Linked DNA regions of Homo sapiens. The protein of the gene in region 1 purifies or fractionates together with the protein of each later gene. This does not show direct contact. Each region holds a gene or a part of one and is shown in the gene's direction. Other genes may lie near its edges. The genes, in order: CAB39L, PLCB3, BCL7B, PUS7, ACOT7 and EPB41L1.

Region 1 (4,811 bases):
TAGAGTGGAAACTTTTTATAGATGGTCTTAGTTTGGAAATTGAATTAAGAAATGAGAAAATGTTGGCCAGAGATGATGCATATTTTGTATACGTCAGAGTTTGACTCTCATTAGAGTACTCTAGTATTAAGACATTTCTTCAGTTTGAGGTTCATTAAATTCATTATATGCATGCTTCGTGAAAAACATTATAATAGGCACTCTTCGGAGACTGGGGTAGGGACAGGAGAAAGTAGCAATAAATGACATAGACACCAAATGGAGATGGGGATAGGGGAGGAGAGGAGAAGGTAACAGGATAAGTAAAACATATCCCCAACAATTAAATTGATTGTAATGAAGAAAATAGACCTATAGCAATTTACTGCAGTATAACATAATACAGAATGAAAAAAGTGTTAAAGAGAAATTACAGACAAGCTGTTATTTGAGTGTGAAGGGCAGAAAGAATAATCCTGAATTGTAGTGATTAGGAAAGGCTTCAAGGAGGAGATGGCATTTGAACTAAGCCTTGAGAGATGAGAAGCATCTGAGTTGTGGGAATGTAAGAAGGGCATTCCAATTGAGGGAATGAGGGGCTCCAGGGAAATAACGAATGTGATGGGAGATGAAACTGAAAAGTTAAGGTTAGGGCCAAATTACAAAAATCCACATATATCTTGCTGATCAATAAGTCTGGATTTTAATTGTCCTTCCCTTAGATTCTTTCTCTAGGCCAACAGCCTTTATTTTATACTCTCTTGAGTACTCTATCAATAAATGACAGTGCTTTTCTCCTTTACATTTCAGAACATATACCCCTCTTTACAACATCTTTAATAAAACCCCACCTGACAACTGTTCCTTGTGAGCCAATAGGCTGAGTTTCAGGTTTTTCTAATAAGAGAAATTGCTAGCACTATAAATTGGCATTCCTTATATTCTACAAAGAATCATGACTATCTGAATGTATCAGCATTTAATGTTACTATGAGTTATTCAGGGAATACTCAATATTTGTGAATATCATTCTGCATAAACAGGACAAAAATGAATAAATACCACCCTGGTATCTTTGTTTGCTGTTTCTTCTACTAATATTTGTAAATTTGATATTGGAAAGTAGTCTATTTCCTCAATTGAATCTTTATTCTTGAATCTGTCTTTCATGAAAATTCTATAATCTTATAAAGAGTAGTACATTACTTATTGTTCAACAAATGTTGTTACTAGTAGTTGATGAGTAATAAAATATCTTAAAGTTTTATAGTATCATAAAAGTTCCATAAAAACTAGTATTCAGTTGAAATGGTCAATGATATCTCTTTAAAAATATGGTCAGATTTTATTTTATTTTATTTTTATTTTTGGAGACAGAGTCTCGCTTAACTTTCCAGGGTCAAGCAATCTCCCACCTCAGCCTCCTGAGTAGCTGGGACTACAGGCGTGTGCCACCATGTCCAGCTAATTTTTTTAGTTTTTGTAAAGTCAGGGTCTCAGCTAAATTTTTTATTTTTTTATTTTTTGTAAAGTCAGCCATGTTGCCCAGGCTGGTCTCGAACTCCTGAGCATAAGCAGTCCATCCACCTCAGCCTCCCAAAGTGCTGGGAGTACAGGAGTGAGCAGTCACGCCCCACCAGATTTTTTTTTTTGGAGGGGGCCCTATATTCTGCTCACTTCCCAGTGTATCACAACTATATCTTTCTTTGTTCTATTCTTCCTATATTTACCACACAATTGTCAACTGTATTATTTCAATACAGGGCTTGTTGTACTTGGGCTAAGCATTATTCATTTTCTTGAAATCTTATCACACACTGGAATATATCTTAAACTTACTTAGAGACTGAATTTGACTTTGAGAGATTGTTGTTGTATTAGAAATGGAACCAATCTGGTATGCCAGTCCTGAATTGTTTCCCACAGTAGACGTTTCGTTTGTCTAGCATATTTTTTGCTGTGAGCCATGATTCCACTTAGGATTTAAGTGAGTCAATCAGTCCACAGCTATGTATTAGCCACCTACTGCATGCAAATCATATATTTATATAGGTCTCTCCTATCTTTTTCCTAAAGTCCAGATAAGTGTATCATACTGCCAAGGAGACCTTTCTACTTAGATATCAGCCATCTCAAAACTAATGTGGTCAACCACAAACTCTTAATTTCTTTACTAACTTGTTCCTCTACTAGTTTATTCATCTTAATAAATAGCACCACCATCTACCCAGTGATTCAAGCCAAAAACATAGGAATCATTCGTGAATTCTCAGTTTCCAAATTTATTCCCTCACCCAACTCCAGCTACATCATCAGCAAGTCTTGTTGACTCTTCCTCCGAACAGTATCCACCACCTGCCCACAGTCCTCTGTTCTGCTCCTGCCACCCCAGGCCAAGCCCCCGTTCCCTCTCCTGGGTTCTGCTCCTGTTCTTATATGTCTCCTGCTGTTTTACAGACATTCTCAACAAGAAGCCAGAGTGATCTTTTTAAAGCATAAGTTAGTCTTGTCAATTTCTTGCTTTAAACTCTCCAAAGGCTTCCCATTACACTTAAAATAAAACCAACTGCTTACCTTGGCTGACAAAGCTGTATCTGATCTGGGATCTGGCCCCTGCCCTTCTCTCCACCCCTGCCTCATTTCACACCACTCACGGTTCTTCCTCTACAATCGAATCACACAGGCTTTATTCCTCCTTCTCTGTTTCGCCAAGCCTGTTCTTGCCATGGAGCCTTTGAACAGTTTTTTCCCTTTGCCTGGAACATTTTGCCTTTTCCTTGAGTCTAAAGTAAAGTAACTTAAGTAGTCACTCACACACACACACACACACACACACACACACACACAATTTAGTCACCTTTATAATGTGGCGTATTTTATTGTCAACAGTTTTTACAGCCCTTCTCAGTGTATGAAATTATCTTTTCATTGTTTACATTCTGCCTCATCCCCCCACCCCCAGCTGTCACCATGTTCATATTTGAGTATATCTAAGTGTTTCAGAATACACTCAAATTCCAGAATACGTCTGCAATAGTGCCAGGCACATAGTAGATCTTCAGTGGATATTGAATGAATCGTGACAAATGGTATGTATGCTTCCATTAATAGCAGTATTGAAATGGTTCTTTTGATGCCATTAATATTATTTTAATAGGATAACAGAGTTCTCTATTTCTCTCTTGTTTACGCTTTAGATATGAAGCCCCACAGATTGCCTTACGTTGTGGGATTATGCTGAGAGAATGTATTCGACATGAACCACTTGCCAAAATCATCCTCTTTTCTAATCAATTCAGAGATTTCTTTAAGTACGTGGAGTTGTCAACATTTGATATTGCTTCAGATGCCTTTGCTACTTTCAAGGTAATTTTTTTTTTCCAACTCAGCTAGGTCAATTTATAGTCACTTGGCCCCTGAAGAGGCAATTTAATTTTAAAAAGCAAGAAATTTTACTTCTTAGGCCTCAGTGTAGCCAACCATGTATGATGTGGATCATAAGAGGAATCTGTAAATAGAATGCAGTCTATGAGGCCAGTCTGTCCTATTGCAGGAAAACAACTCAAAATATTTGTCACAAGCTCAAATGGAGTGAATTCCAGTATATACAGTTACGTGGGAAAGGAATATGTAGTGCTCTGTGTGTGGCATGCTGTCATTTATGTTAAAAACAGATTAAAGGGCATAAGCTTCCACTTAAGGTACATATGCACTGAATACCTCTGCAAGGATGCATAGGAAACAGCAACAGTGATTAATTCTGGGGAAAGGAACTAGGTAGTGAAGGGAGATGGAGAATTACATCTTTGAATATGAAGGACATCATGTTATTTTATGAATGAAATTTTTAAATGTCCACATGGTGAAACAAAATAGTAAGAAATTATATTGTCGTTGTTTCATAATCATCTATAGTTTGATCATGTATTATCTACTTTGTCACTATGTAGGAAATCGTAGGATGCAATATATTCACATTGTTAGGCAACCAACTACCAGAACTTTTTTATTTTGAAAAATTCAAACTCTACCTCTATACTTATTAAATAATAACTCCCCATTTCCTCCTCCCTCCAGCCCCTGACAATCATTTTACTTTTGGTTTCTGTATTTTATCATCAAAAAAATGTTCAGAGAATATATCAGAAAAGAGTGCAGCTAATTTGCAGACAAACATACCAAAACTTAGTCATCTAATGAGTGATGTTACATTCGAGATTTCTATTTTAGAAAACCAGTTACTTAGGCTTATGATCCTGCTATTATTTAACATATTTTGAAGTTGGTATCAATGTGTATTACATGCTCATTTTTCAATAATGGCAAACTTTTATCATTCAAGGGCAGATAAAAGTTTTGGAAACAAAAGCCTATTTGACATTCCGGTTAGTGTATAAAGTGGGTGATCAAGTTAGCTAGAATTATTTGGGGAGGGATAATAATTATAAGAAAACTAATTTTAAGATATAAATAGAAATAAAATAGATATGATTTTCTTCAATGTCTACCAAATCAGCTCTGAAGCTGTTTGAGAAGAGGAATTCAAAAAATACTATAGACTGACAATGTAACAGCATCATTGAAAAAAATAGGTTTTCAGGTTTAAAAAGTAGGTAAGACTCATTTAAATGTATATATATATATATATATATATGTATTCAGATTCATTTCTTCAAAAGCATTTTAGCAATTTAATTGTTCTATTTACATAACTCCAAATTAATTTATACTTTTTTCAGGATATACGTATGTAACTTTTTTTTACAAGTTTTACTTAATTGTAATCCATGTATGAATTTTTATTTTTTATATATTACCTTAAATATGTATTT
Region 2 (4,758 bases), on another chromosome or scaffold:
AGGCATGGGAGCTTGCCCAGCTCAGCCCTGCCAGGTCTGACGCCCTTTCTTGGCTCACCCCTAAGAGAGGAACAAATGCTTCGAGATGTCGTCCTTTGTGGAGACCAAGGCCATGGAGCAACTGACCAAGAGCCCCATGGAGTTTGTGGAGTATCCTTTGAAGGTGCTGTGGGCGGGCAGGCCAGGGTGGGGCGCTCGGAGGCCGGCTCCGGTGTTCTGTCCCCACATATGCCACCTGCACAGGGTGCTGGCCCTCCGGCGGCCCTCCTGCACCCTGGCCTGGGGCTTGGGCAGATCCAGGCAGTCTCAGGGGGCATGGCTAGGCTAAGAAACAGAGGCCGGGTGTGGGGGTCACAGGAGCACCTGGCTGAGGCCGGAGGTGGAGGCTGATGGGGTGGGCCCTGGCACCTGTGTGGCCCCTGACCACCAATCTCAGATACAACAAGCAGCAGCTCAGCCGCATCTACCCCAAGGGCACCCGCGTGGACTCCTCCAACTACATGCCCCAGCTCTTCTGGAACGTAGGGTGCCAGCTTGTTGCGCTCAACTTCCAGACCCTCGGTGAGCCCTGGCCCCCTCCATCTTGACCCCGACCCTCAGTCTTACTGACTTCTGACCCACGATCCTGCTGGTCTTGCCTGAATGGACCTCTGACCCTGTCTCATCCCAGATCCCAGGGGAACCCAGCTCCCGACTCACCCCGCCTCCTGCCCTTGGCTGATACCAGACCCCTCCCCTGTCTGATCTGTCCTGGATCCGGACCCTGATGCCATTTGAGCCCGCCCCTGACCCTGGACCTTGGATGCCATCTGACCTGATGATCTCCCATTCCCCACATGGCACCGTCCTGCCTGATCCCTGCCCCTGCTCGACGTGCCCGTGGCACCCCAGATGTGGCGATGCAGCTCAACGCGGGCGTTTTTGAGTACAACGGGCGCAGCGGGTACCTGCTCAAGCCGGAGTTCATGCGGCGGCCGGACAAGTCCTTCGACCCCTTCACTGAGGTCATCGTGGATGGCATCGTGGCCAATGCCTTGCGGGTCAAGGTGGGGCTTGCGGGCGGCTCAGGCCAGGGGTGTCCTGGGGGCAGGACTCTCAGCATCCGCCTCACCCTCCTTGGCCCACCCCCAGGTGATCTCAGGGCAGTTCCTGTCCGACAGGAAGGTGGGCATCTACGTGGAGGTGGACATGTTTGGCCTCCCTGTTGATACGCGGCGCAAGTACCGCACCCGGACCTCTCAGGGGAACTCGTTCAACCCCGTGTGGGACGAAGAGCCCTTCGACTTCCCCAAGGTGAGCCTGGCCCCTGCACCCGCCCAGGCACAGGCAGATCCAGCCCAGACCGCCCCGACTCTCAGGTGGGAGAACAGGAACCAGGCACACCGTTGGCGACTGGGGATCAGAAAGTGGGGGGTGCCATGGGTCCCCCAGGACCTGCCTGTCCGAGCGTCAGTCTCCCTGCCCTCCTTAGGGTAAGAGACCAGGGTGAGAAGGTGAGATGGGGGTTGGGGGGTGTCAGCTAGACGTCTTGTGTCCCCTGCGAGGAGTGGACACAGCCTACCCTGTCTCCGAGGCAGGAGCTGAGGTCACAACCCCAAGCTCATATCCGCTCTTCAGCACCCCGCACGGCCCTGCATGGACGCGGCCTCTGCTCCCAGCCTGGGCATGTGTGTTCTTGGTTTCCTGCTCATGACTCACTCCCGTTTCTAAACTGGCAATGACCAGAACTGTCTGTGGGGGCCCTGGAGGGGCCTGGCTGCCTGTCATCTTGCCTCAGGGTCCTGATGGCTGCAGTCATCCATTAGGCCAGGACATGGAAGTGGGGTCAGCCATCAGCTTAGTGGCAATGGTGACTGATGGTCAGTAGGTCAGCTCGTCTGAAGGTCTGCTTTGTTAAGCTTTGATGGCTGTGGTTAGCTGTGGCCTGGTAGCCACAGTGGCCCAGGGTCAGCCCTGTGGCTCAGCTCCAGTCTGGCCCACAGGTGGTGCTGCCCACGCTGGCTTCACTTCGCATTGCAGCCTTTGAGGAGGGGGGTAAATTCGTAGGGCACCGGATCCTGCCTGTCTCTGCCATCCGCTCCGGTGAGGCCTTGGTGGGCTCTGGGCAGCACAGCGGGCAGTGGGTAGGGCCCCCACCTGGCCCAGCAACCCAACGTTGCCTTCCTGACCACCCAGGATACCACTACGTCTGCCTGCGGAACGAGGCCAACCAACCGCTGTGCCTGCCGGCCCTGCTCATCTACACCGAAGCCTCGGACTACATTCCTGACGACCACCAGGGTGAGCTGGGGGTGGGCGGGGCCTGCCTGGCCAGGGAGTGTGAGGGACAAGGGCCACCCCCAGGGCCTGGGAGTGGCCGAGCTGGATGGCCCCGACTGAGTAGGGAACTGAGTAGGGAACAGATCTGAGGACAAGCTCTGGAATTCCTCATTGAGACCAGAGGTGGCGGGTGGGGGTGGCCTGGGGGCTCTGTCTCTGAGACCTTGGCCTTCTGCCTCCCCCCAGACTATGCGGAGGCCCTGATCAACCCCATTAAGCACGTCAGCCTGATGGACCAGAGGGCCCGGCAGCTGGCCGCCCTCATTGGGGAGAGTGAGGTGAGCCGGGGCAGGGCAGGGCTCAGGCTCACTGTGACCCAGGGGGCCGCTGGACATGACTGCTGTGGCCACATGAGGAGGGGGCTTCTGGTCTCTCTAGCGCAGTAGGCTTGGCAGCCCTGGGATTTTGAGGAGATGAAAACCACCCATTTGCATTCAGGAGGCCTTCAGGTCACACCTGGGCTGGAATTCCTCCAGCTCCATGTAGGCTTGGAGTGGGGGTACAGGGGTCTCAGCCACTTCATCAGGGCAGTGCGAAGCCACAGAAGCTGTTCAGACGTGGTGTCCTGGGAGTCATGAGGAGGGCAGTGGCTTCCGTGGGGAGGGGTCAGGCACGGAGGTTCACCTGCGCTTCCAGATCCAGTCCCCCCAGGGCCTGCGGCAGGCGGGCGGGGAGAGATGACTGCAATTAGGGCTGCCTGGAGCTGTTAGCGGAGAGGCTGGTGCCCACTCTGCGGTTGAGTCCTCTGTTGATTTAATCAGGAGCTCAGCAGCAAGGAAAATGAGCGACTGTAGGCAAGGCTGGGGGACACAGGCAGGGGAGGAGAGGAGGCTTGGGGCTGGGCCAGGCCTTTCCAGAACAATCTGGGAGTTACTGAGCACATGCAGTGGGCTGGCATTATGTTATCTTCCCCACAGCCCATGTGGAAAAGGGGTTTAGAAAGGCTTGATTTATAGCTCTTCTCATGCAGACAGCCTCCTGTTACAGAGCAGTCCAGCAGTGGCTTGGACTAAGGGAGGCTGACAGGGGTGCTAGGGGACCCAGGAGGTGGTAGAGGACAGAAGGGTCTGGAGGGAACAGCATTTCTGAAAAGAGCATTCTCCTTTCTCCCTATAGGCTCAGGCTGGCCAAGAGACGTGCCAGGACACCCAGTCTCAGCAGCTGGGGTCTCAGCCGTCCTCAAACCCCACCCCCAGCCCACTGGATGCCTCCCCCCGCCGGCCCCCTGGCCCCACCACCTCCCCTGCCAGCACCTCCCTCAGCAGCCCAGGTAAGGAGTGGCCTGGGTCGGGGGTGGGCTGCAGGGAGGCACCCCCCACCCTGTCCTCCAGCTCCTCACAGGGCCTCTGCTCCCCAGGGCAGCGTGATGATCTCATCGCCAGCATCCTCTCAGGTAGGGGGCGGGGTACCTGGAGGCAGGGGGCTGCCTTGCAGGTTCCCCCACCCCCCGCCCACCTTTGCTCTGCCGCTCCCAGAGGTGGCCCCCACCCCGCTGGATGAGCTCCGAGGTCACAAGGCTCTGGTCAAGCTCCGGAGCCGGCAAGAGCGAGACCTGCGGGAGCTGCGCAAGAAGCATCAGCGGAAGGCAGTCACCCTCACCCGCCGCCTGCTGGATGGCCTGGCTCAGGCACAGGCTGAGGGCAGGTGCCGGCTGCGGCCAGGTGCCCTGTGAGTGTCTGGGCCGCCTGTGTGCTATGTGTGCTGGGTGTGCTGATGTGAACATGGGGGTCGGTGGGCATGGAGAGATGGCAAGAGCTGCTCCTTGACCCCCAGGGAGGAGGGTTCAGTGCAAGGATGGAGGAGGCTTTCCACACCAGGCGTCCCTGTGTCCCCCAGGGAGTGACATCTCTTTTGAAGTCCATGAGGAGCATGTTGCCCAAACAGGCTCCCATCACTTGGGTGGAGCTAACAGGCCTCCTGGTTTGCATAACAGACCTGGCCCCATGGGATGGTGTCTGCCATCGCTTGCCAGGATGTGCCCCCCTACACACCCTCCCCATCCCAGTCCATGTGACGGGCCCAGGCATCACCCAGAGGGGTTCTCCTCGCAGAGGTGGGGCCGCTGATGTGGAGGACACGAAGGAGGGGGAGGACGAGGCAAAGCGGTATCAGGAGTTCCAGAACAGACAGGTGCAGAGCCTGCTGGAGCTGCGGGAGGCCCAGGTGGACGCAGAGGCCCAGCGGAGGCTGGAACACCTGAGACAGGTAGGGGGCCTGCAGTGGCCAGGGAAAGCCTGCTGGATAGACCCGTCGTCAGCCCGGCATCACCTGTCAGCTCCCTGTGTCCACAGGCTCTGCAGCGGCTCAGGGAGGTCGTCCTTGATGCAAACACAACTCAGTTCAAGAGGCTGAAAGAGATGAACGAGAGGTGAAAGCCGAGGATTGTCTATGGGAAGGGCTGGGGACTTCTAGTACCAGAAGGAGGGCAGAGTCTGTGCT
Region 3 (4,811 bases), on another chromosome or scaffold:
CAGCCTCCGCCTCCTGGGTGCAAGCAGTTCTGGTGCCTAGCCTCCCAGTAGCTGAAACTACAGGTGCATGCTGCCACACCCAGCCTAATTTTTGTATTTTTTGGTAGAGACGGGGTTTCATGATGTTGGCCAGGCTGGTGTTGAACTCCTGACCTCAAGTGATTTGCCCATCTAGGCCTCCCAAAGTGCTGGGGTAACAGGTGTGAACCACTGTGCTCAGCCTCATGCACCGACTTCTTACTGTTTTCTCCTACATTTGTTTTTCTTTTTGCTAGAATACATCCTTCAAGAGTTTTGTCAAAGAGAGCTTCTGTGGGGAAAACTTTCTGAAAATATCTTTGTTTCACTTTCATGTTGAAAATTGATGATTTTACCTGTATATGAAATTCTAGGTTCAAAATTATTTTCTTTCAGCACTTTGAAGCTATTACTGAATTGTACATCCAGTGTCGCTGTTAAGAAATGTGATGTTATTCCCATGCTTGAGTCTTTGTAGGTGATCTACTTGGCTTCCTGGAAACTTTAGCATTTCTTCTATATTTGATCTCCTAGGAATTCCCTCAAAATATCCTGTAATATTTCTTTTCCTTTTTTTTTGAGACTGTCTCACTCCATAGCTCATGCTGGAGTACAGTGGTGCAATGATGGTTCACTGTAGCCTCAAATTCCTGAGCTCAAGAAATAGTTATGTCTCCACCTCCCAAGTAACGGGGACTACAGGCACGTGCCACCACGCCTGGCAAACTTTTAAATTATTTGTAGAGACAGGGTCTTGCTGTATTTCCCAGGCTGGTCTCAAACTCCTGGGCTCAAGCGATCCTTCTGTCTTGGCCTCCCAAAGTGCTGGGATCACAGGTGTGAGCCACTGCACCCACGCAGCTGCTTGCTTGCTTGCTTTTTTTTTTGAGATGGAGTTTTGCTCTTGTTGCCCAGGCTGGAGTGCAATGGCACAATCTCAGCTCACCGCAACCTCCACCTACCAGGTTCAAGTGATTCTTCTGCCTCAGCCTCGCGAGTAGCGCTTGCCTCACCATGCCCAGCTACTTTTGTATTTTTAGTAGAGATGGGGTTTCTCCGTGTTGTCAGGCTGGTCTTGAACTCCTGACCTTAGGTGATCCGCCCGCCTTGGCCTCCCAAAGTGCTGGGATTACAGGCGTGAGCCACCACGCCTGGCCAACTGCTTTATTTCTTAACTTTTCTCTCATTCATTTCATTTCTTGTCTTTCCTGGTGCATTCTGAGTTTCTCAACGCAGTTTTTGCTCATTAATCTTTTATTTAGCTGTATGTATTTCAATTAACCTCATTCACTTAATTTTTATTTGAGCAATTGTATTTTTCATAACAAATTGCCTCAATTGGTTCTTCCTCAAAACGACTTTTTTTTTTTTTGAGACAGAGTCTCGCTGTGTCACCCAGGCTGGAGTGCAGTGGCATGATCTCATCTCACTGCAGCCTCCACTTTGCAGGTTCAAATGATTCTACTGCCTCAGCCTCCTGAGTAGCTGGGATTACAGGCATGTGCCACCATGCCCAGCTAATTTTTTTCTATTTTTAGTAGAGACAGGTTTCACCATATTGGCTAGGCTGGTCTCGAACTCCTGACCTCAAGTGATCTGCCTACCTTGGCCTCCCAAAAAGTGCTGTGATTACAGGCTGTGAGTCACTGCCCCTGGCTAAAACAACTTTTCAATATTATCCTTATCTTTCTGAGCAAATCCATGTTTAATTTCAGTTATTCTGCTCCTTCTGGTACAGACTGTTCTGTTTATCAGGGTGCCTGTGTTCCTCCAATCTCTGGTGAGTTTTATGCGTGCACTCACCTTTTATTCCCTTGGGACTCTCAATTGCATTGGCTGGTAATGTGTAACTACGAGGAGGACGGAAGCCTGATCCGTAGTTTTTCTTTCTTTTTTTTTTTTTTTTTTGAGATGGAGTCTCGCTCTGTCACCCAGGCTCGAGTGCAGTGGCACGATCTTGGCTCACTGCAAGCTCTGCCTCCTGGGTTCACGCCATTCTCCTGCCTCAGCCTCCCAAGTAGCTGGGACTACAGGCACCCGCCACCACGCTCAGCTAATTTTTTTGTATTTTTAGTGGAGGCGGGTGAAAACCGTGTTAGCCAGGATGGTCTCAATCTCCTGACCTCGTGATCGGCCCACCTCGGCCTCCCACAGTGCTGGGATTACAGGCGTGAGCCACCGCGCCCGGCCAGTTTTCCTTTCTGTAAATGAATTTAGGAGGTTGAGGTTAGCCTCAGGGTTCAGCCTCTCCCTTTTGCTCTCTGCTGTCCTCTCTGGCTCCAGGGAACCTCCTAGCACCAACTGTATGGACTCTGCCTTTATCTGAGAGCAGCCATCCCAAGAAGTTCTAGGATGCCAAACTCATGGAGTTGATGGGGCGTGGTTCTGGAGCAACTGTTTATTCCCCCATCCAGCCTGGCTCTGGCCATTACCCACAGGGGTCAAAGGTCAAGCAGTTAAATCTCTTGGGCATTGTGTATAGACAGGAGTAGATGCTGCTAGAAAACCCCCTTTCCTTGGCCGAGTGCGATGGCTCACGCCTGTAATCCCAGCACTTTGGGAGGCTGAGGCGGGCGGATTGAGACCATCCTGGAGCCAGGAGATCGAGACCATCCTGGCTAACATGGTGAAACCCCATCTCTACTAAAAAATACAAAAAATTAGCTGGGCATGGTAGTGGGCGCCTGTAGTCCCAGCTACTCGGGAGGCTGAGGCAAGAGAATGGCGTGAACCTGGGAGGTGGAGCTTGCAGTGAGCCGAGATTGTGCCATGGCACTCCAGCCTGGGTGACAGAGCAAGACTCTGTCTCAAAAAACAAACAAAAAATTGAGTTATTAACAAAAATTACGTTACTAATATAATGCATCTACCGGAAATGTATAAAAAGTGTGAACTGGTAAATTTGAGGCTACTCAGATTTAAACTTTTGGCTTTTGGGATGCTCTCATTTTCATATGCTTGGATTTACTCTGGGCTTTTTTTTTTTTGAGTTAGGGTCTAACTGTGTTGCCCAGGTTGGAGTGCACAGTCATAGCTCACTGCAGCCTCAAACTTTCAGGCTCAAGCGATCCTCCCACCTCAGCCTTCTCAGTAGCTGGGACCACCAGCCTATGCCACCATACATGGCTCATTTTTTATTTTTTTGTAGAGATGGGGTCTTACTATGTTGCCCAGGCTGGTCTCAAACTCCTGGGCTCAAGGGATCCTCCCACCTCCGCCTCCTCAAGTGCTGGGATTACAGGCATGAGCCACTGTGCCTGGCCCTTGGGCTTTCTTGTTGCAAGCTGGTGCTTACCTGCCCACTGTGGTTGCCCTGCACTTATAACCTACATCTTTCTTGAAACAAATGTTATAGGTAAAAATAAACATGGGGTGATCATTTTGTTTTTTGGGTTTTTTTGTTTGTTTCTTTTTGAGATGGAGTTTCGCTCTTTCGCCCAGGCTGTTATGAAGTGGCAGAATCTTGGCTCACTGCAACTTCCACCCCCCAGGTTCAAGCGATTCTCCTGTCTCAGCCTCCAGAGTAGCTGGGATTACAGGCACATGCCACCATGCCAGGCTCATTTTTGTATTTTTATTTATTTATTTATTTATTTATTTTATTTTTTGTTTTATTTTATGTTTTTTTAGATGGAGTCTCGCACTGTAGCCCAGGCTGGAGTGCAGTAGTGCCATCTTGGTTCACTGCAACCTCCACCTCAAGCAATTCTCCTGCCTCAGCCTCCCAAGTAGCTGGGATTACAGGCACATGCCACCACACTCGGCTGATTTTTGTATTTTTAGTAGAGATAGGGTTTCACAATGTTGGCCAGGCTGATCTTGAACTCCTGACCTCAGGTGATCCATGCGTCTTGGCCTCCCAAAGTGCTGGGATTACAGGCGTGAACCAGTGCGCCCGGCTGGGGTGGTCGTTTTGAATGGATGAGGATGACGGATCAGGAATAGAGCCAGCCTGGGCCCATTTGTCCTGTCACTGTCTGTGTTACATGAGGTTCCTTCTTCTCTCACTTTTTCCCCACTCTGCTACTGAAACAGGAATCTTTCTCAAATGAGTGTTTTGTATTTCTTGCCCATTCGTATAGAGAAGGGTTGCCTGGCGCAATTTGATCAGGGCAGGAGAGGGATACTATGGGATGTTCTAGTCGAAGTGTATGTATCTGCCTGTTGCTTATGATTCACAGTATTCCTGCTGGAAGGGTTCATTTTTCTGAGGCTTGAGGAGAAGTTGCTTGTCCAGGATTCTGTTCTTCCTTGGGTCCTTGGATTCTCACGCTGCTGTCGTTTTTCCTGTTCAGTCCTAATCCAGACCTCTGTGGTCTGTCACATAGCACCCTCCTCCCTCTCTGTGAGTCTCCTGCTTGGCTCTGTCATATTCCTCTTTTTTTCCTTTTCTAGAAAGAAAAGTCAAAATCGAACAGTTCAGCAGCCCGAGAACCTAATGGCTTTCCTTCTGATGCCTCAGCCAATTCCTCTCTCCTTCTTGAATTCCAGGGTGAGTTGCATCTCTGTGTCTTCCTTGCAGGAGAATGAAAACTTGGATGAATGCATTAATAAGAAGAATTGGCCAGGTGCAGTGACTCACACCTGTAACCTCAGCACTTTGGGAGTCTGAGGCGGGCAGATCACCTGAGGTCAGGAGTTCAAGACGAGCCTGGCCAATATGGTGAAACCCAGTCTCTACTAAAAATACAAAAAGTTAGCTGAGCGTGGTGGCGCGTGCCTGTAATCCCAGCTACTCGGGGGTCTGAGACAGGAGAATCGCTTAAACCCAGGAGGTGGAGGTTGCGGTGAGC
Region 4 (4,811 bases), on another chromosome or scaffold:
CTTGAACAAAGAAATTTGCTTGTTATATTTGCAAATTGTGCAAAATAGTTAGTATTAATTATATGAAAAATACATATTTAAGAATTGCATAATATTCTATTGCAGTATTAATTTTAAAAACACAATTTCAATGTATTTGCATTTGTCCATCCATTAATTTATCAAATATGTATGACACCTCATATTCAATGTCTTATATTAGTTACTGAATGAGTAGAAGGCTAGCAAAAGTTGTAATAGAGGGGCAAGTTTGCAATAAATAATTTAGTAAGATGTTAAAAAAAAAAAAAAGAACTGCAGAAGGTATTTAATAGGAATAAATGTAAATTCCCACATTTATGCCCAGTGATCAAATGCCGATAGAAAAGGCCCAGTTTGATAGTAGTTTGTATAAAAAGCTTAAAATATCTGGAGTTATTGTTGTATGTGAGCCTGTTACCCTGGGGCAGATAAAAGGTTTGGTGGGAAATACAGAAATGTTAAAGGAGGGACAGCTAAGGGAAGCATTGTTTGGTCTAGAGAAGATATGGCTGAAAGATCCAGTACTTATGACTATATGTGGAAGAAGACAGTTAATCCACTGTGTTCCAAAGCGTCAACAGAAGTTAGAAGAAAATGGATTTCAGCTTGGAATAGGAAGAACTTTCTAATAATTGCATGCCTCACAAAGAAGTATTTCCCCATTAATGACTGTGCAAGCAAAGGCTGGAAAACTGTCTCTCTTGAGTGCTATAAAAAAGACTCTACATCAGGTGCGCGGGTGAGCCAGATGGTTTTCCAAGGTCTCTTATTTTTATACATTTATTTATAACTGCCTCTTCCAGAGAGAGTTTGAAGCCTCTGTATATGCTGTCTTCCAACTCTCAGCCCATATAAAATGCAGTTTAGCAACTTTGGATGAAATGGCCTTTTGTAGTTGGCTTGGGAACCTTACACCACAGGTACTATGACTGGTTGCAAAAATAACTGAAAAATTGGCCAAACCAAAGCTCAGTACACCCTGTAGTCCTAGTTACTAAGTCACTAAATTTTGATTCCAGGGAACAGATTTTGGATTATAAATTAAGGTGACTAATTTTATTAGGGCAGTCTAACTGAACTTACATTGTTACTCTCTTTATAATCTAGTTCAGGATAACTTGACTGACAAGCTGCATTTCAACTAACTTTTTGTATTTTATATTAGTTCAAGAAGCCTACAGGGAAATGCTCACAGCTGACAATCTTGATATTGACAACATGAGACACAAAATTCGAGATTATTCCTTGTCAGGGGCCTACCGAAAGATCATTATTCGTCCTCAGAATGTTAGCTGGTGAGTAATCATCTAGAATGAGATAGAACTGAATTACCATATAAGTTGTAAGCTTTTGCTTCACTTTATATAGAGTCATGTACTGCACAAGAATTTTCAGTCAGTGACAGATTGCTTATATGATGGTGGTATCATAAGATTATAACACCATATTTTTACTTACCTTTTGTTTTTTTTTTGGTTTTTTTTTGAGACGGAGTTTCACTAGTCACCCAGGCTGGAGCACAATAGCATGATCTCGGCTCACTGCAACTTCTGCCTCCCAGGTTCAAGCGATTCTCCTGTCTCAGCTTCCAGAGTAGCTAGGATTACAGGCACCTGCCACCACACCTGGATAATTTTTGTATTTTTAGTAGAGGCAGGGTTTCACCATATTGGCCAGGCTGGTGTCAAACTCCTGACTTCAGGTGATCCTCCTGCCCCGGCCTCCCAAAGCGCTGGGATTACAGGCACGAGCCACCACACCTGGCCTTACCTTTTTTCTTTTCTTTTTTCTCTTTTATCTTCTTTTCTTTTCCTTTTCTTTTTCTTTTCCTTTTCTATCTTTTTCTTTTCTTTCTTTTCTTTTTTTTTCTTAATAGAGGCAGGTTCTTTCTGTCACCCAGGCTGGAATGCAGTGGCATAATCATGGCTTCCTGCAGCCTCAAGCTCCTCTGCTCAAGCAATCCTCCCACCTCGGCCTCCCAAAGTATTGGGATTACGGGCATGAGCCACCACATCCAGCCTGTGCCTTTTCTATGTTTAGATGCACAAGTACTTAAACCATTGTGTTACAGCAGCCTCCAGTATTCAGTACAGTAACATGCTGTATAGGTTTGTAGCCTAGGAGCAATAGGCTATAGTCTGTAACCAAGGCGTGTAGTAGGCTATACCATCTGTGTTTGTGTAAGTACATTCTGTGATGTTTACACGGTGATGAAATGCCTGACAAGGGTTAGAACATGTCCCTCTTGTTAAGCAGTGCATGACTGTACTTTTTCAGTGCTTACAACCTAGCATCTAAGTGTTTCATAAGTGTTAGTTATTATTGTTATTACTACTATTGTTACCACTACTGCTACTACTTTGTATTTTTCAAATCATCAAGAAGTAAATGAAGCTAAGCCGGGCACAGTGTCTCATAAGTAAGCCCGGAGACTCCAGAGGCTGAAGCGGGAGGATTGCTTGAGGTCAGGAGTTTGAGACAAGCCTGGGCAATATAGTGAGACCCTGTCTCTAAAAAAAGAAAAGAAATAAAGAAGCTGTTTTGAATATAAACAGTTATGGGAAGTGAGTTCATTTACATTTTATTGGCATCACTGAATTATTGAAGAAATGTGTAGAGTGAACTTTTTTCCTATTTCTAAAAACTTAGATTTGCTTACAGAGCTATCTCTGAGCAAATTACCTTACTTAGAATTAGCTGTGAGTTCCAAACACCGCTCTGGTTGTTTTAATATCATGTTTCTAGAGAGGAAAATATACTTATGTTAGTTCGTTTAAAAATACTTTATTGGAAGCCCAAGGTGGGAGGATCACTTGAGCCTAGGAGCTTGAGACCTGCCTCCGCAACATAGCAAGACCATCTCTACAAAAAATTACAAAAATTAGCCTGGTGTGATGGTGCACATCTGTAGTCCCAGCTGTTTGGGAGGCCAATGTGGGAGGATTGCTTGAGCCTGGAAGGTCGAGGCTGCAGTAAGCTGTGATCACGCCACTGCCCTCCAGCCTGGGTGACAAAACGAAACCCTGTCTCAAAAACAAATTTTTTTTTTTTTTTTTTTTTTTGAGACGGAGTCTCGCTCTGTCGCCCAGGCTGGAGTGCAGTGGCGCGATCTCGGCTCACTGCAAGCTCCGCCTCCCGGGTTCGCGCCATTCTCCTGCCTCAGCCTCCCGAGTAGCTGGGACTACAGGCGCCCGCTACCACGTCCGGCTAATTTTTTGTATTTTTAGTAGAGACGGGGTTTCACCTTGTTAGCCAGGATGGTCTCGATCTCCTGACCTCGTGATCCGCCCGCCTCGGCCTCCCAAAGTGCTGGGATTACAGGCGTGAGCCACCGCGCCCGGCCTCAAAAACAAATTTTAATACTCAGTATTATCTAAAGCTTTATTTGATAATTTTAAAATGAAATCCTGAACTAGTTGCCTATTTCCAGGAAATTATTTTATTCCCTATTTCCTTCTCTTCTCCATCTCTCTTACCTCCTCCTCTCTGGAGTATAGGCAAGAGGTCCACATGGTTGGACTTTGTCTTCCCCACTCCAGAGAACTGTTCCTTCTCAGTAACAAGCTGTTGTTGGTTGTGGCACCCAGTCTGGAGAAAATGTAAATGCCGTAAGTAATTTGATCACAGCTGTGCAAAGTGAAGTTTACTGACTCTCAACTTCATTTAAAAAGAATTGTCGGCTGGGCACGGTGGCTCACGCCTGTAATCCCAGCACTTTGGGAGGCCGAGGCGGGCAGATCACGAGCTCAGGAGATCGAGACCATCCTGGCTAACACGGTGAAACGCCATCTCTACTAAAAATACAAAAAATTAGCCGGGCATGGTGGCGGGCGCCTGTAGTCCCAGCTACTCGGGAGGCTGAGGCAGGAGAATGGTGTGAACCCGGGAGGCGGAGCTTGCAGTGAGCCAAGATCACGCCACTACACTCCAGCCTGGGCGACAGAGCGAGACTCCGTCTAAGAAAAAAAGATTTGTCAGTTGTACATTTTTAAAATTTTAATTATTAATGTGAAGAAATGGGGTTTCACCATGTTACCCACGCTGGTCTTGAACTCCTGGGCTTAGTCATCCCACCTCGGCCGCCCAAAGTGTTGGGATTAGAGGCATGAGCCACCATGCCTGGCCCCAGTTGTGCATTTTTAAATAACTAATAGAATATAATTGGATTGAGCCTATTATATTCAGGCACAGTGGCTCACGTTATAATCCCAGCAGTTGGGGAGACTGTGGCGGGTGGATCACCTGAGGTCAGGAGTTTGAGACCTCCCTGGCCAACATAGTGAAACCCCATCTCTACTAAAAATACAAAAATTAGCCAGGCATGGTGGCAGACACCTATAGTCCCAGCTACTTGTGAGACTGAGGCAGGAGAATTGATTGAACCCAGGAGGCAGAGGTTGCAGTGAGCCAAGATCACACCACTGCACTCCAGCCTAGGTGACAGAGTTGAGACTCCATCTCAAAAAAAAAAAAAAATTATATATATAAGCAAAACTTAGGTATAAAATCTGGCCCTGCTATATTATTCAAGATTCCTAACTATAATTATTTACAGTAAACTTACTTGTTTTTCTTGCTAAATAAATGATGATGAGTGGCTTAGTACCTTTTATGAAAGTTCACATTCACACTTATCTTTATTCATATGTTTTGAAGGGAAGTCGTTGCATATGATGATCCCAAAATTCCACTTTTCAACACAGATGTGGACAACCTAGAAGGGAAGACACCACCAGTTTTTGCTTCTGGTAAGTTTACTCAGTCATCAGCTCTGTGTTGACTTTGAAATG
Region 5 (4,811 bases), on another chromosome or scaffold:
GTCTCAAAAAAAAAGAAAAAAAAGTTAGCTGGGCGTAGTGGCGGGTGCCTGTAATCCCAGTTACTTGGGAAGCTGAGGCAGGAGAATCGCTTGAACCTGGGAGGCGGAGGTTGCAGTGAGCCGAGATTGTGCCATTGCACTCCAGCCTGAGCAACAAGAGCAAAACTCCGTCTCAAAAAAAAAGAAAAAAAAAAAAACAAAGAACCTGATTTACAGAAGCCACACTCAGAGCTTGTATTCTGGAGCATTCCGCAAAATGATTTACAGTGCTGGCTCTCTTGCTGCTGGGATGTGTGGACCCTGGGTGAAGATGCAGTCTTTGTAACCCAGAGAGCCTGTGCGTGGGGAGGCCTTTGTCTACCCACTGTCCAACCTCACGCTGTAAGTGGGCCACTTAGCCTGGCATTGCCCTGGAATTGGCACCTGCAGCTAGCTGGCTCCCCAGTTCTGGTCAGACCAGAAGTGGCTTTCTCCTGTGTGACCCACCTGGCCTGTGTAGCCTGCACCAGGGGGTGACCCCATAGGCTGTCTTGCCATCCCACCCCTTGGCCTCTCACTCTCAGAGCCCTCCTGGGGAGGGGGATCAAGGATGTGCCTCCCCATCCTTGGACCCCTGCATGGGAATAACTGGGGAAGTCTGTTACAAATATGGGTTTTCTGCATGTGAACAGTACTTCAGCAGAGAGTCAACAAGATGAAGATTGAGGAGATAATGGGGAAACTTGAATAGTCCCTTGATAATGATTTTAAGGAATCACTGCTTTTTTTTTTAAGGTAGGATAATTGTTTTGTAGTTTGCTTTTTTAAACCAGCTTTATTGAGATAGATTTAGAATGCATACACAAGAATATTTGAAACGTACAGTTTGCTGAGTTTTGATGAGTGTGCACACTGAGTAGTGGCGGGCCCAGTTGTGATGTCGAATATTTCCAAACTCCCAAAATTCCCCTACTGTTGGCCCCTGGCAAAAAGATCTGCTTTCACTCACTCGCTGTGCCTCTTCTAGAATTTCGTGTCGATGGAACCGGATCGAGCTCAGTGCTGGGCCTCGCTCCTGTGTCCCCGTAGCCCTGTATTACCCTGTTCCCTGCACACTGCAGTTTCTCTTCACCAGGCCACAGAGACTTGGGATCTTGTGAATGAAGTTCACAAATGCAGATTTCAATTCATTTAGGACAGAAACGTGAAGTCACTTGCTATTTAATGATATTAGGAATTTGGATGATATTTTAGATGAGATCTTTGTTTTGTGGTTTTTATTTTTATTTGAGACAGGGTCTCGCTTAGTTGGCCAGGCAACTAAGTGGTGCAGTGGTGCAATCATGGTTCTCTGCAGCCCCAACCTTCTGGGCTCAAGGGATTCTCCCACCTCAGCCTCTCGAGTAGCTGGGACTACGAGTGCACGCCTCTGTGCCTGGCTAATGTTAAAAAGATTTTTTGTAGAGACATGATCTCACTTTGTTGCCGAGGCAGGTCTTGAACTCCTGGGCTCAAGTGATCTTCCCACCTCGGCCTCCCAAAGTGCTGGAATTGTGGGCATGAGTCACCATACCCCTCCTTTAGGTTTTTCACAAGGAGCTTTTATCTTTGAGAGGAAATGCAGACATATTTACGATGTCGTACTGGGAAATCCGGGATTTGCTGCAGAATAACCTGGCATGGGGAGCAGGTGGGAGCAGAGACCAGAGGTGCCCTGAGCTGACTGTTTTGGGGCTGCTTGATGGGGACATAGGGGTTCACTCCCTCCTCCCTCTACTCTTGTAAGCATTTGATGTTTACCACAATGAAGAATAAAAAGAAAACCAGGCTCCTGAGCCTCCACCCCAGAGCTACTGCCTCTAACTCCAGGGGCGGGGAAGGTCAGGGAGGGGTAGGCCCAGGAATCTGCATTTTCCTCGGCCCTCCTGGAGCTTGAGGGCCACTGTCAGAGGAGGGCCAGGCACCTGCCGTGTTGTGCGGTGTGTTGGCCTTCCTCGGCTTCCCCGCAGCCTTCCAGCTCTCCCGGTGCCTGTGAGCCAAGACCTCTCTGCCCAGGTGGAACTCCGCCCAGGTGGAACTCATTCTTCTACTTGCCTGAGGGCCAGCCTGAGTGGTGCGAGGTTTAAGGTCCTGGAGGTGGGAACCCTTATGAGTGTTGCTTGTGGCCCCACCCAGTTCATCCTCTCCCGCAGAGGGGTGGTGGCCCTGTCCTGTTTCCCTGTCTGTGAGTTCAGGCCGAGTCATGGATTCCTTGCATCACTGGTCTTTTGTAGAGAACATCCTGTGATCCAGTTCCGGAAGCCGAGGAGGCGGCTTGCCGGGGGCTGGTGGGGGAGGGGCGGTCCTAGGAGGAGCAGGAGCCTGGTGCTTTCTATCAGGGAGGGATCACACCGGCTCACTGCTGAGCCGGCCAGGCAGACACAGGCTTGGGCTCTGCTGGGCATCATACTTGTCACTGGGTAAACAGTTTGCCCACTTACCGCAGGATGAAGCTGCTTGCCAGGGCTCTCCGGCTCTGTGAGTTTGGGAGGCAGGCATCTTCCAGGAGGCTGGTGGCTGGCCAGGGATGTGTGGGGCCCCGGCGAGGGTGCTGCGCTCCCGTCCAGGTGGTTGGGCCCAGGGCTGATCTCCCACCCTGTGGAGCCTGCATTACTGGAAGGTAGGATGACTGGGAATATTTTGTGCCCATGGTGTCTCACTTGCGACGCCGACTGGGCAGCCAGGGCCTTGGGCCGCATAACTTGGAGGAGTTTTGGGGAGGGTAGTAGGGTCGGGTGTTGGATGAGCTGTGTGTTTTGCTGGATTGAAAGTGCCCACTTAAGTGGCCACCCTCAGTGGAGACCTGGCATGTTCTTCCCCTAGGGACGAGCGGAACACCCGGGCTTTGTTGGAGGAGGTGACCTGGCAACCCTGGGCTGTGGGAATCTGGGCCTCTGCAGATCAAGGCTCCTGCAAGCCAGCAGCTGTGCTGGCTCACAGCTGGCAGCTGGCATCCGTGCCCTGCTTTGTCCCTAGGCTGGATGTTGAGCTGTGATTTTAGACCAGAAGGTTGGTGCAGGGCCAGAGGGAGCTGTTCCTGCACGATTGGCTGATCCTAACAGTGCAGTGTTGAGCTGCTTACAGATGGCTTTTGCATACTTTATTTCTCCTAAACTTTACAGAAACTCTGTTGAGTGGGCATACATACCTCCCCCTTTGTGCCAGCTTTATTGGGTTATAGTTCACATGCCATACAATTCATTCACTAATGTGTACAAGCTAGTAGATTTCAGTTTTATGTTCACAGAGCTGTGGGATCATGACCTCCATCAATTTTGAAAGGGGTGGTAGGAGGATTTTTTGTTCTCCTGACATGGAGCTCCCCAAGCCCTTGGGACCTTTGTAGTCCTAAGAGTGTCTAGTATGCTAATGAGAGAACTGGTGGCTGGGGGCCCTAGATATAGCTTCAGGATGGGAGCTGGTCTCCAGAAAGGCCAAGGGAGGATTAGCGGGTTAGCGCTTTCAACCTTACCTTCCTATACCGCAGAAGGTAGTGCCAGACTTTACTTGAATTGTAGGACACCCACCTAGTGTCGGAGAGTTGGAGAAGTGGGGTTGAAAGAGACACCCATGTTTGTTATTAAAAGCATGAGTAAAAACAGCTCGCCTAGGAATATAATTTTTGGGTCATATGGTAATTTTGTGGTTATTCTCTTGAGGAATTACCAGACTGTTTCCAAAGTGGCTGCACCATTTCACATTCCCACCAGCAGTGTAAAAAGGATTCAATTTCCCCATATCCTTGTCAGCACTTGTTATTATCCATCTTTTGAATTCTAGCCATGCTAGTAGATGTGCAGTGGTATCTCACTGTGGCTTTGATCTACATTTCCCTAATGAGAGAAGATGATACTGAGCATCTTCTCATGTGCTTATTGACCACTGTGTATTTTTAGAGAGCTGTCTAGTCAGGTCTTTCCTGTATTTTCCAATTGGTGTAATTGTCTTTTTGTTGTTGAGTGATGAGAGCTCTTTATATATTCTAGATGCAAGTCCCTTCTCAGATAAAATTTTTTAATTAAGAAAATTTTCCAATTCAAAAAAGTTGTCAGCCTGGGCAACATAGCAAGATCTGATCTCTATTAAAGATTAAAAAATTAGCCAGATGTTGGCTGGGCGTGGTGGCTCACACCTGTAATCCCAGCACTTTGGGAGGCCGAGGCGGGCGGATCACGAGGTCAGGGGATCGAGACCATTCTAGCTAACACAGGGAAACCCCATCTTTACCAAAAATACAAAAAATTAGCCGAGTGTGGTGGCGGGCGCCTGTAGTCCCAGCTACTTGGGATGCTGAGGCAGGAGAATGGCTTGAACCCGGGAGGCGGAGCTTACAGTGAGCCAAGATCGTGCCACTGCACTCCAGCCTGGGCCACGGAGCAAGACTCCGTCTCAAAAGAAAAAAAAATTAGCCAGATGCAGGGTAGGTGGGGTGTGCCTGTAGTCTCAACCACTCAGGAGATTGAGGCAGGAAGATTGCTTGAACCCAGGAAGTTGAGGCTGTAGTGAGCTTATTGCACCACTGCAATCCAGCCTGGACAACAGATCAAGACTCTTGTCTCTCAAAAAAAAAAAAACTGTGTTAAAATACACATAATATATAATTTACCGTTAAAAAAATCTGCCATCAGGCCGGGCGCGGTGACTCACGCCTGTAATCCCAGAACTTTGGGAGGCTGAGGCGGATGGATCACGAGGTCAGGAGATCGAGACCATCCTGGCTAACAAGGTGAAACCCCGTCTCTACTAAAAATACAAAAAATTAGCCAGGCGTCATGGTGGGCGCCTGTAGTCTC
Region 6 (4,091 bases), on another chromosome or scaffold:
CATTTTACAAATGAGGAAACTGAGGGTCAGAGATGTTAAGTGGCTTGCTCACAGTCATGAAGCTGTGAACATGATGGATTGATTAGAGAGTGAAACCCAATCTGTTAGACTCCAAAACCCAATGGTCTTGACCTTTTCACCACACCCACTTTTCATAACGTCTGTCTCCTAGGGCTACCAAGATCATCCATGCAGCATGGTAGTTAGCACACTGCCTACCACATCGCGAGTGCTTAATAAAAGCTCATTATGACTACTATTACCATTAACTTGAAATAGGCTAACAAAATGCTGCACGCAGGGACTGTGCTGTGCTGTAATAAACCAAGAAGAATAAATCATAACACTGTATTGTTTAGATGTCTTTGGTACTTCTGAAGTGTCTATGGGCTTACGAAGACATCCCACATACCCAGAATAATGATTACACTGACTTATAGGACAGCCACTTCATTAATTGATGCACAAACTTAAAGTGCAGCCTGTTACTGTAAGGAAAAACCAAACCAAACCAAACCAAAACCAATGCCCAGTTAGGATGTAGTAATTTTGCTACTGAGTAATATTCTTTGAGTAGTATTCTTTCTACTCAATTTTGACCAGGGGCCAGGCACAGTGGCTCACACTTGTAATCCCAGCACTTTGGGAGGCTGAAGCAGGAGGATTACTTGAGCCCAGGGGTTCAAGACCAGCCTGGCCATCATAATGAGACCTTCGTTTCTATAAAAAATGTAAAAGATTAACTGGGTGTGGTGGCTGGCACCTGTAGTCCCAGCTACTTGGGAAGTTGAAGCGGGAGGATTGCTTGAGTCCAGGAGGTCCAGGCTGCAATGAGCTATGATCGCGCCACTGCACTCCAGCCTGGCAATAGAGCAAGACCCTGTAAAAAACAAAAAACAAAAAACGAAACGAAGGAAGGAAGGAATAGATGGATACAACTAGGTTTTGGAGCTAGAAACACCTTGGTAGCTGTGTGCCCAGAGGAACCTCTCTGACCTCAGTTTCCTCATCTGCAAAATGTCATTAATGTATACATTGGAGTTGCTGTAATAACTAAACAACACCTGTGATATACTGGATCTGTGTCTTGCCTACAGAAGGGGCTCAGCAAGGTGAACCTGCTTCCTTGTCCCTCTGAGGTTTTTCCATGTTTAGAGGTTGATGAGAGTACTGAGAAAGTCAGATCGTAATTCTCCACCACCAGCCTGGTGCCTGAGGCCCTGTCTCCATGAGGGTGTTTGTCTTACTGGTCTTCATCTTCTGTTCCTTCTGCAAATCCTCCAGAAACATCTGTCCCTGCTTCAGTTAACTCTGTCTTCCTTCTTAAAGTTCTTCCTTCTTGAAGTTCTTGCTATGAGCGTGGAAAGTCACTCATGTCACACAGAACCTTTTCCCTTCTCTCCCTGCAACCTTGCAGGTCAGACGTCTGGTTTCTGCTCCATCTTCTCCCACTGGCCCACCTCCTTCAGAGAGGACCTGTCTCCCAAACACCACCAGCAAGAGGGCAGCACTTGCCTAGCTTCCTAACCTTCCAAAATTTAATGGGAAAAAATTGACCTGTTCCAAAACAGGAACCTTGGGTTTTAGTCTTGGTTTTGCCAACTTACTAAGCCTGAAGCCTCTGGGCCTCGGTTTTCCTATGTGTCAAATGAGCCAAGAAAGATCCATTTTCTGTGATTCCGTTAGCACTCGACTGCATGCAAGTAGCAGAAATGATGTTTCATCCATTAAATGGTTTTGAGTAGTTGCTATGTGCCAGGCACAGTGTTGAACACTGGAAAGACAAGAGTTAAAAGATAGCCCTTACCCTCAAGGAGATCAGAGTAGTGTGTGGTTAAATTAACAACAGCAACAATCATCATAATAAGAACAGCCAGTATTTATTCAGCACTTACTATATGCTGGGCCCTTGCTTCAGTTCCTCCCTATAATGGGAGGCAGAACCTATTTTACGGAGGAAGCAATTGAGGCTTAAAGAAGTTAAGAAACTTGCCAGGCACTGTGGCGTGCACCTGTAATCCCAGCTACTTGGGAGGCTGAGGCAGAAGGATCACTTGCAGCCAGGAATTCAAGGCTGTAATGTGCATTGATTGTGCCTGTGAATAGCTATTGCACTCCAGCCTGAGCAACATAGTAAGACTCGTCTGTTAAAAACTGTTTAAAGTAAAGGAAGTTAAGAAACTCACCCAAGATTACAGAGCTAGCAGGCCCATAGAGTGGGATTTGAACTCAGGGAGTCTGATTTCAGAGCCTGCTCCTTTAAACACTGAGTTTTGGAGCCAAACCTGGAATCCAGACTTCATTTCTTTATTTAAACACTGCTGTCTGTGGTTTAATCTCCAGGACACAGCAAGCCCACGGACAACAGAAAGGAAAACCAAATGAAAAAAGAACATCTGCAATCGTGACTAAACATTTCTTAGAGCTGACAAGATAGGAAGAAAAAGTAAAATGATGATGATCTTAGCTTCTCGGTGTTAAAGGACATTTTAACACATTGTCAGGCCAAAGTAAAAGATTACCACCTCCCTGGAAACAAGCGAGCAAACACACATGGGCTCTGGAATCCAACAGATGTGGGTTCGGTTCTCTGCTGCCACACACAAGCTGCGTGGCCTTGGAGTGCAATAGCTACTCACAGGCATGATGATTACACATTACAGCCTTGAGTTTCTCACCTCAAGAGATCCTTCCACCTCAGCCTCCCAAGTAGCTGGGATTACAGGTGCAAGTCACTCTACCTTGCTGAGTCACAATAAAGGGCATATGGTAAAGGGTAGCAAAAACAACCTCTTGCCATGTATTTTAAAACAAGTGACAGAAGTTACTAATTTTTCTTGTCCTCTTCCTTCCTTTCCCCCCACTCCCCACCCCCCATTCTACCCCATGCCTCTGGCTTCCAGGAATCCTGACCTCTGTGAAGAGATCCTGGCATTTCTGGTCCAACCCAAGCCAGAGAACCATTAAGAAGGGGCCTTCATTCTGGATTCTCCGACGCAACACTGACGTCCCAGCTGCGACGTACTGTCACTGATGAGAGACTGGGAAGGGAAAAGCATATATATATAGATATATAGAGATATAGATATATATACAGGAAACACCGCATCCTTGCACTGCTGCTGGGGCTGGCAGAGCAGTTGGCTGACAGCAACAACCGACATCTGAACACCTACATTTCCTTTGCAGACAAATTGAAGAACTGGTGGGATTTTTTTCAAGAAAAAAAATTATATAATAACTATAATCCCTTGCTCACCCCTTTCCCCCGCCAAATAAGAAACGCAAGCCAGACCACGATGATTGTAGAAGTCCCTCCCGCCCTGGTTCTGCACGTTACAGTTAGCAGACGAGCAATTCCATTTGTTCTTCTCCAGCATCTCTAAGGCCCACTTGAATGCAAAGGAAAACACTTGCACAGCAAAGCAAGAGAAGTCACAGCAGCAAGACACGCACAGTCAACCATTTTCCGAGAAAAAAAGAAAATTCCCCACTTGGAAAGAAAGAGGAGGAACACTGGATTCTTACTTTCTGGATCTTGACACTGGGCTGCAAAACCTACCTTCCTCTCTCCCGCCTCCCCTCACCCTCAACTCTCAATGTCTTGCTGTCATTTTCTGTCTCGGCTCCCTCCTCCCCCTTCCCCCTTCCCCCACCCCACACCCTTCACCCTCTGTGTCCTGGTCCTTCTGAGGGCCACTGCAGATGACTCTCCTTTGAAATGAGAAAAAGAAAAGAAAGCAAGAACAGAAAACGAAGCCACAGGAAGGGAAGTAGACATTGTATGCTTATGGTTTCTCATTATGAAGGTGCAGCTTGTAGGAGGTTTGTACGGATGTGCTTTGAAGTTATGTATATTACATATAACAGGAAAAAATATTAAAATAAACAGTGCTGGTAAGTATGAAGCTGACATTCTAAAATTATAATTATCTGACTGTGATTGATGTATCCTGAGGTTCCTAGATCTCACTGAACTGGCCCAGCTAAGGAGACCTGGACTCTGGGTGTGGGTTGGCTCACAGTAGGGGCTGACGGGTTCAGTGTAGTAATACTGTGTGTGGTGTTTGTAATTGGTTGATTGGTGGGGA

What was found.
Region 2: the proteins of CAB39L (region 1) and PLCB3 purify together in Homo sapiens (affinity purification with mass spectrometry; one large-scale study listed by BioGRID and IntAct). This does not show direct contact.
Region 3: the proteins of CAB39L (region 1) and BCL7B purify together in Homo sapiens (affinity purification with mass spectrometry; one large-scale study listed by BioGRID and IntAct). This does not show direct contact.
Region 4: the proteins of CAB39L (region 1) and PUS7 purify together in Homo sapiens (affinity purification with mass spectrometry; one large-scale study listed by BioGRID and IntAct). This does not show direct contact.
Region 5: the proteins of CAB39L (region 1) and ACOT7 purify together in Homo sapiens (affinity purification with mass spectrometry; 3 studies listed by BioGRID and IntAct, with this or other methods). This does not show direct contact.
Region 6: the proteins of CAB39L (region 1) and EPB41L1 purify together in Homo sapiens (affinity purification with mass spectrometry; one large-scale study listed by BioGRID and IntAct). This does not show direct contact.

The regions. Positions count from the first base shown.
Region 1 is NC_000013.11:49,349,278-49,354,088, reverse strand, and holds part of CAB39L (calcium-binding protein 39-like), read left to right. Parts: intron 1-3,176; coding exon 3,177-3,345; intron 3,346-4,811. UniProt on the Homo sapiens protein: Component of a complex that binds and activates STK11/LKB1. In the complex, required to stabilize the interaction between CAB39/MO25 (CAB39/MO25alpha or CAB39L/MO25beta) and STK11/LKB1.
Region 2 is NC_000011.10:64,261,516-64,266,273, forward strand, and holds part of PLCB3 (1-phosphatidylinositol 4,5-bisphosphate phosphodiesterase beta-3), read left to right. Parts: intron 1-65; coding exon 66-150; intron 151-436; coding exon 437-561; intron 562-670; coding exon of another isoform or gene 671-744; exon of another isoform or gene 745-851; intron 852-891; coding exon 892-1,046; intron 1,047-1,131; coding exon 1,132-1,293; intron 1,294-1,982; coding exon 1,983-2,082; intron 2,083-2,175; coding exon 2,176-2,280; intron 2,281-2,505; coding exon 2,506-2,597; intron 2,598-3,435; coding exon 3,436-3,589; intron 3,590-3,676; coding exon 3,677-3,712; intron 3,713-3,794; coding exon 3,795-3,987; intron 3,988-4,370; coding exon 4,371-4,524; intron 4,525-4,610; coding exon 4,611-4,687; intron 4,688-4,758. UniProt on the Homo sapiens protein: Catalyzes the production of the second messenger molecules diacylglycerol (DAG) and inositol 1,4,5-trisphosphate (IP3).
Region 3 is NC_000007.14:73,543,247-73,548,057, reverse strand, and holds part of BCL7B (B-cell CLL/lymphoma 7 protein family member B), read left to right. Parts: intron 1-4,413; coding exon 4,414-4,510; intron 4,511-4,811. UniProt on the Homo sapiens protein: Positive regulator of apoptosis. Plays a role in the Wnt signaling pathway, negatively regulating the expression of Wnt signaling components CTNNB1 and HMGA1.
Region 4 is NC_000007.14:105,459,126-105,463,936, reverse strand, and holds part of PUS7 (pseudouridylate synthase 7 homolog), read left to right. Parts: intron 1-1,186; coding exon 1,187-1,316; intron 1,317-4,677; coding exon 4,678-4,769; intron 4,770-4,811. UniProt on the Homo sapiens protein: Pseudouridylate synthase that catalyzes pseudouridylation of RNAs.
Region 5 is NC_000001.11:6,383,321-6,388,131, reverse strand, and holds part of ACOT7 (cytosolic acyl coenzyme A thioester hydrolase), read left to right. Parts: intron 1-2,363; exon of another isoform or gene 2,364-2,465; coding exon of another isoform or gene 2,466-2,638; intron 2,639-4,811. UniProt on the Homo sapiens protein: Catalyzes the hydrolysis of acyl-CoAs into free fatty acids and coenzyme A (CoASH), regulating their respective intracellular levels.
Region 6 is NC_000020.11:36,226,429-36,230,519, forward strand, and holds part of EPB41L1 (band 4.1-like protein 1), read left to right. Parts: intron 1-2,903; coding exon 2,904-2,912; 3' UTR 2,913-4,091. UniProt on the Homo sapiens protein: May function to confer stability and plasticity to neuronal membrane via multiple interactions, including the spectrin-actin-based cytoskeleton, integral membrane channels and membrane-associated guanylate kinases.